Linked DNA regions of Homo sapiens. The protein of the gene in region 1 purifies or fractionates together with the protein of each later gene. This does not show direct contact. Each region holds a gene or a part of one and is shown on either strand. Other genes may lie near its edges.

Evidence for each region.
Region 2: the proteins of TWF1 (region 1) and CAPZB purify together in Homo sapiens (affinity purification with mass spectrometry; 3 studies listed by BioGRID and IntAct, with this or other methods). This does not show direct contact.

What each region holds. Positions count from the first base shown.
Region 1 is NC_000012.12:43,804,594-43,808,536, forward strand, and holds the start of TWF1 (twinfilin-1), read right to left. Parts: upstream 1,725-3,943; 5' UTR 1,653-1,724; coding exon 1,628-1,652; exon of another isoform or gene 1,238-1,627; intron 1-1,237. UniProt on the Homo sapiens protein: Actin-binding protein involved in motile and morphological processes. Inhibits actin polymerization, likely by sequestering G-actin. By capping the barbed ends of filaments, it also regulates motility.
Region 2 is NC_000001.11:19,478,940-19,482,539, forward strand, and holds part of CAPZB (F-actin-capping protein subunit beta), read right to left. Parts: intron 1-3,600. UniProt on the Homo sapiens protein: F-actin-capping proteins bind in a Ca(2+)-independent manner to the fast growing ends of actin filaments (barbed end) thereby blocking the exchange of subunits at these ends.

The sequences.
Region 1 (3,943 bases):
GTAAACTTTTTATACTTACATATAAATACTTTCCTATCTATATTGGAAAAGTTAATTAGAATACAAAGAAAAAATCTGGAGCATGTAGCATCCTTATTATCAGTATTATAAAACTTTACCGCATAAAATAACGAAGACTGTATACAATTAAGAAATATAAATATTAGCATTTTAAAAGTATGTTAATAATTCTAATCTGTTTTAGCTACATAATTCTGTGCAGAAATAACACTGGGGTGAATATACTGAAGTTACTCAAACCCAATAATGAGCAAATTACAATTTTGAAAAACTTTTCTTGCTCTTTTGAAAAATATTGAAAACCTGCTTTCATTCTCTAATTCAGTTTCAAGCTTATGACAGACACTCCTTCATCAATTCACTTTCTGTATTTTCCCGTTAAAAACAACAGTATATATCAAATATCCTAACTTGTTTAAAGAAAAAGACAATAAAATGCATTCAGTCTTAACTCTGGTTATATTTTTCTAACTTGCATTTCTCAAAAGCTAGATTAAACTCATTGAATAAATATGTATTTAATAACTAACCCTTGTGTTCCTATTAAAGCTTCAATTTCGTTCTAATTTCGTTCCTGTGTTGTCTATTAGCAGCAAGAACCACTATGTAAGTAGGTAGTGCTTGCTATAAGGCTCAAGCATGAGAGTCAATAACTACATATTTATATATCGAAATTAATGCGGATAAATAAAACAAAGTTTTCAGATTTGAGACTATTTTGCTTCTGCGTGCGTGCAGGGGGATGTGTGCGGTGGTGTCAAAAATCTTTACGAATAAAACATACAATTAAGTGTTCATCTGGGAGAAAGACTCGCTATTAACAGTAAGAGCTTGAGTTTACACTAGAACTCGTTAAGTGATCGCGAGTAACCCGGGGATATATTATTTGACTCTTGATGAGGTGAGTACCTGCAGGCTGCCCAATTTCAAACCAGGAAATAATGGAGGTCAGATATAACTGCATATTGAACTGTCTGCACGCATTACATGCAACCATACAGATCAGTTTCCCTTGGGGAGTATCTAGGAAAAAGATCAAAACACACGCTTACACTCGAGATTTCTCAGAACATAACTCTCATTTTCCTATTTGGAGAGAAAATGCGGGAGAGTTTTGGGAAGCACCCCTACTGATGTGAGAAAGATTCTGGCATGGTTCTTTTTGTAATCAAAGTCCTGTAATATTCTCCTTTGGACCATGAAAAAGAAAACTCGCCTGGTTCTCGACAGCGTACTGAAGCCCCAGTCGCCTCCACTGTCCCAGCTCTTCCCTACGTGACCAAAAGGGGGAAAGTTGGGCGACTGTCGGGGACGGTGGAAGGCACGCCCCCTTCAACCAGGCCGCCTCGAAAGCCAATTTCCTTCGCTCCCCCGAATTTCGGATCAATCTGCAACGTGACGGCAGCAGGGACCGGGCTGGAGGAGGACGCAGGCCGGCAGCGCCCGGGAAGCAGGAGCGCGGAGAGGCGCCGAGGCCCGGCTCGCCCCGCGAGACCGACTTCCGGAGCTCCCGGCCCGACTCCAGCCCTGCCGGTCCTGCAGCCCTCCCGGCTCTCCCGGCTCTCCCGGAAGCCCCTTCCCTGCGAGTCGCGCCGGGCGCTGTTACCTTGGATGCCGGTCTGGTGGGACATGGCGGCGGCCGCTAGCTCCCGGCTCCGGCGCTGAGTGCAGCCAGCGGCCCCGGCCGGCGGCCCCAGGAAGTGGCTGCTCCTCCGCCGGCCCCGGCGCGTCATCCGCCCGCGACCCGCGGCCGCCCCGCCCCGTGAGGTTGACTGAGTGCCCGAGCGTCCCCGCCGCCCCGCCGCCCTTCCTGGCCGCCGGGCTGCGGTCCAGCCCCCGGCCTCGCTATCCTAGTTCTCTGCTTGGGGTCCTGCTTCTGCTCTTGCCGCCGCCTCTCCCGCTTCTTCCGGGGGGGACATGCCGCAGAATCTAGACTGCTCAGTGCTCCGACGTCTGCTCTCTGACAACCCCGCCGACGCCGCCATTCGCTGCCTCAGCAAAGGGGTGCTCAAAAACGGAAGTGATCATTTTACCAAATAGGCATTTTCCAGCTTAAAAAAGATGTGCACATTATTTTTCTTGGTTTACTCTTCCTATAATCGATACCGTTTAGTGTAGAAAAGCCTTCTCCTTGCTCCATTGTTTTGAAAGAATTAATATAGACTGCCTCTCATCAAATTTTTCCACGATTTTAAATTAAGTTAATCTCAGACTGTTAACTTTTCTTTTCAGCTGGACACATTTAGAGACTCAGTGTATCTTTCTCTTCACTCCGGAAAGAGACAGCCACTAAGAGATTAGCTGATTTGAGTATCCCTCTGTGGTCGATTATACCATTGCAAATCCTGCTCTGCTTTAGGTTGGCAGTTTATTATTTAATCCAGTAATTATTCAAAATTCACTTGGACAGATTTGTAAGGTAGCAGCAGATATTACTTAAAAATCTTTTCCTTTCCTGCTTTTACAAACATGTAGTTCCTTCCTGAAAGGTAATGTTAGTTTTGTGGGGGGTTTGGTTTTTTTTTGGTACTGCTTCTCTACTGCTACTAGGTGGGAAGCTAGTTCTTATTTTTAGGGCCTTGAAGTGACACATACACAAAATTATAATCTGCTAATGAAGAAATAATTTATTCAGGTCAATAATATAAGTGCAAGTTAATCACTGTTCCAGTACTATACGATGTATTTTTCATGAGTGATGAACAGGCCTGCAATTGTTTTTCTTTACAAGAATCACAGCAAACAAGGTTATGTTCTATTGCCTGTTATCTGAGCTCTGTTTTTCAGACATATTCTCATATTCAGGAATAAACTAAATCTGAGTTTTATGACTTGTATGGATTTAAGAAATGTAGGGAGGAGTTTCATTCTAATCAAATTCTTCCTGACACAATGGTTCACCCTGATTTACCAGTTTTTGACTACATTGCTGAGCAGAGAGAAAATTGCAGAGTTGACTTGCAGTATTTTGACTGATTCATGTCCTAGTGCTTCGGGGAAATTGCTTAAGGAAGTTGGCGTTGCTCAAAAGTATAGTTGAGCAAAATATAATCCTTCCATATTCGTGCTTGGGAAAGGCCACTGTATTCTCAGTCCTGAAGAAGAGGAATGTCTAGTTAGGTTGGGACCACCCTGACAGCCACCAGAAAGTGCTTATTTACTGCCAGTACAATAGTTTGACTTAAAAGCTGCAAGCGTCTTGGGTACCTTGCTCTGCTCTAGCCACAAATATTTTCCCACTTTTCTTCATCTATTGTGTCTCCATTTAGTGAACATTTGCCAGAGCTGTCATGAGAATAATACCTTAGATTTGTATGGTAGTTTACAGTTTACAAATAATATATAATAGACTTATTTTGAGTACCAACATCCTGTGTGACGAGCTGAAAAAAATAGCAGGTTTTGTTTTTTAACTTTAAGAGGTTTGGAAATTGAACCACAGAGTTGGGAAGTCAGCAGGTTTCAAGGCTAAGACAAGTGTCTGTAAGAAACAAACCATTTGAAAACAATGTATGCAGATAAGAGGGTTTATTATAAGGATATTGGAGGATCTTATAGATCTTGACAACTTGGTTGTCACCTCTGCTTTTCTCTTCTTTTTCTCCAAATAAGATCTCTCTGCTTGTGCAGTCAAAATGGCTGAATATGGCTACCCTACACTTTCCAAATTGACAGGGTTGTAGCTGCATGCAGAGATTACATAGCTCTTCTAAGTCCAAGTTTAAAGTTCCTAAGAGAAAGCACGTGAATGACCCTGCTTGGCTTGTGTCAAATCATTCTTGGCCAAGGTGGCTGGTTTACCCAATATACACTGCCCATGAGTGAAAGGCAATTATCACAGGAGGGGAGATGGATCTTGGGTGTGGGAAACAGGTGTAGAATTCCTACTTTTTACAGTTTGGTAGAGGTAATGTTTAGAACC
Region 2 (3,600 bases), on another chromosome or scaffold:
TGGCTCATGCCTGTAATCCCCAGCACTTTGGGAGGCTGAGGCAGGCAGATCATGAGGCCAGGCGTTCAAGACCAGCCTGGCCAACATGGTGAAACCCTGTCTCTACTAAAAATACAAAAAATTAGCTAGGCATGGTGGTACGCACCTGTAGTCCCAGCTACTTGGGAGGCTGAGGCAAGAGAATTCCCTGAGTCTAGGAGACGGAGGTTGCAGGGAGTCGAGATCGTGCCACTGTACTCCAGCCTAGGTGGCAGAGCGAGACTCTGTCTCAAACAAACAAACAAAAAAAAACTAGCTTCTGTTATTCCTACAGCTGCCATGCAGAGCCCGCCACCCCACCATCTCCCTCAGCAGACTGGTGTCTTAGGCACCAGAACCTAATGCTGTGTGCATCAGGCTGAACTTGGTGCCACCTGCAGTCACAGAGTCACTGGCTGGATGGATCACTGGGCTACCCAGACTGAAATCCCCATTCAGTTGTTAACAGGCTCTCAAGGCTTTGCAGACACCACTATCTAGGATTTAGACTGACCTGAAATAGCTGTGTGTCAATGATAAACTGTCCAATCAGAACACCTACATGGGACAGCTCTGGGGCAGACCCCCTCAGCTCCAGAGGTGGTAAATCATTCCGTGTCACTCTGCCTTTATCTCCTTCCACCATCCCTTCCTTTCCACACCCACAGCTGCACAGTGGCCAGGACCCTCATAAGCTCACAAGCTGATGCTTGTGGAGGCCTCTCTCCCATCTCTTTCACCTCCCAGGCCTCCTGCATGCACAGCCAGAGGGCTCTTCCTAAAATACCACCGCTCTGCCAGCCTCCTCGAATTTCTACCTGCCCTGTCAAAAATTTCACTGGCTCCACACTGTCCCAGATCTAATGCAAACTCCTTAGCTTAGCAACTCAGGCACTCCACAACTCACTCCTGAGACTGAGGCACCCCATGGGCTCGCATCTACTGCTTGTGTGACCACACCCCCTGACCTCTGCTTTTGTGCCAGTCCCCTTGACCATACCCCACCCTGTCCTCTCTGCCTGAGCACACTCTTCCCAGGCTTCATGCCCAGCCCCCAAGCCGACTGCAGGCTGGAGTGGTCTGCAGGGCTGCGTGGAGGAGGGGGAAATGCAAGCCAGGCCTGCAGGGATGGGCAGACCACAGCACCCATGGGTCCCTGGCTAAGTCTTTTCTAGTACTACTTCATTCCTGCTGCACTTGGCTTTTTGGACGCATCTTGCCTCCCCCTCCCAGATTAGAGGACAGGGATGATGGCTTCTATTTGTGTCCCTTATTCTGTGGTATGCAGAATAAGACATGCAACAACCACAGCTACTGTGTGCCAAGCACTGGAGTAAGTACATTACAAATTTCACCCCTACTCCCCATCTCTATAAAATGTTATCCTCATGCGACGGAACAGGAAAACTGAGACCAAGGGAATTAGCCGCCTCACTGACAGTCACATGCTGAGTGGCAGACAGGACTCAAATCCAGATGTGCCCAACTGCAGAGACCATGTTCTGTGGAGCAGGCAGCCGCCTCTCAGCTCTCACTCAGTGTTTATGTAGCTGGCGCTAAGTGCCAGGCGGCCAGTGCAAGGTGTGGGGTACTCAGAGGGAACCAAACAGACAAGGTCCCTGCTCTCACAGAGCTCATATGCTCTGTCCCCAGCCCTGTCTCTCTTCTTCCAAGCCTGGAAGAGGGCAGGAACCCTCCAGTCACAGGGGGTTCCACTGGCACAAACAAGGAATTCGGGCCTGACATATAGCATGAGGCTCTGGCAACACATGGTGCCCAGCTCACAGTGAGCTTGTCTTTAATGGAGAAAAGAGCCCCAGGCTCTATTAGGTAAGTTGTGCGTTCAAGGCACAACCCAGAGCCAGACAAACTCCAAAGCAGCCATCGGCAGGCAGTACGGAGTGGAGAAAAACGGTTTGCTCTGGAGTCAGAAAACCCAATTCCTCCACTTAGTAGCTAGACAGGGACTAACCATACACCCCTTTGCACACTTTTGGAAAATGGTGATAATAACAATAGTTAATGTTTACATCACTATGTGCCAGATGCTACTGGATGCACTTGACAGATATTACTTAACCCTCATTACGACCTTATGCAGAGGTACTGTTATCCTAAAGCAGTCTGGCTCCTAACTCTATTTTCTTGTACTATGCTGCCTCCAGCCTAAAGTTGAACCTACCTTGTCAGGCTGTGGTGAGGACCGTTCTAACAGAGTGCATAGCATGTGGCTGGTGCTCCATAACCATTAAACCTCCCTTTCCTTCCACTGAAACATGAATCTGTGAAAGCCTAGGTCTGGAAATAGCATATGGCTCTAGCTGGTCCCAATATGGGTGATCTTGCAGTTGCATCCCCTGGAATTCCACACCGCACCCTCACTGGTGGATCTGCTGCAAGGGGAAATGGGACAAGATCCTGTATTTACGGGGCCCTCTGCTCACTGTGTTCTGGAAAACACAGTGAGTGGGGTCCAGCACATGACTTGGGCTGACAGGGATCCGAATCCCAGGCCTGCTGTTCACACCGGTCACTCAAGCTCTCAAGCTTCAGGTTCCTTGTGAGTAAAATGGGGGCTGGGCTATAACCTAAGTCATGTTTCTGGGTCACAGCAGATCCTCGGGTACCCGGGTTGGACAGGCTGGACAAAGCTACCCAGGCTGGACTTCCAAGGTACTGTAAGGTTTCATTTCGGGGCCCCAGAAAGCCTTGGCTGTGCAGAGGAGCGGACTGCGTGCACGTGCAATCCAATTCCACCCAATGGCAGACACAAGAGAAGACACACCCCAAAAGGCCTGGGAGTGGAGCCTGGCACAAGCCCCCAGCTTTCTCTTCAGTTTCCTGCCATAGCTCATGCAGATGTGCCTGCAGGTACACTGAACAAGGCTCTTTCCCCCTTAAGCTTTAGGTAACGATGACATCCCCACCCCTCAACAATGTGAGCCATGAGGGCAGAGATCCTTGTCTTGCATCCTCAGCACATAAGCACCACAGAGTAGGCACTTAATACACAAAAAGCTGAATTAACATTATCCTGTAGCTGCAGGTACCCCACAACATGCCTCAGTATTTGCCTAACAATAAGCATTTCCCAGCCTGGAGGGAGGGCAGGCTTCTAACGGGCGAGGCACCTGCCCTGCCACCATTTCCCTGTGGTCAGTCATGTCCTGTTCCCCACCTCATGGAATGTAAAAGTATAGGATGTCTGAGTTATAAATAGGAGCATCTGCTTTCAAAGACACGGCTTATCATTTCCTTAATCTCAAGCCACTGATCACTGCCTACTTTTTATAAGCATGCCACCAAAAAGAGGCCAGGTGGGCTTAAATGAACAGGGCTGTATAGACAGACAAGAGGGATGTGAGTTGAACAATGTGTCTTATCCACATCAAGAGACATTAATGTCAACTATGTTGTTTCACCTTGTAACAATACCAAGTTCCCATCAGCTCCTGCCAGGCAAAACCATCTGTGAGCTGGAGCAGCAATTCCTGAGGGGGCCTCCCTAGTCCCCGTTCCTGCTAAAGCCTCACCATCATCATAACTAAGAATAATTCCCAAGTCAGAAACTGAAGCTGTGTA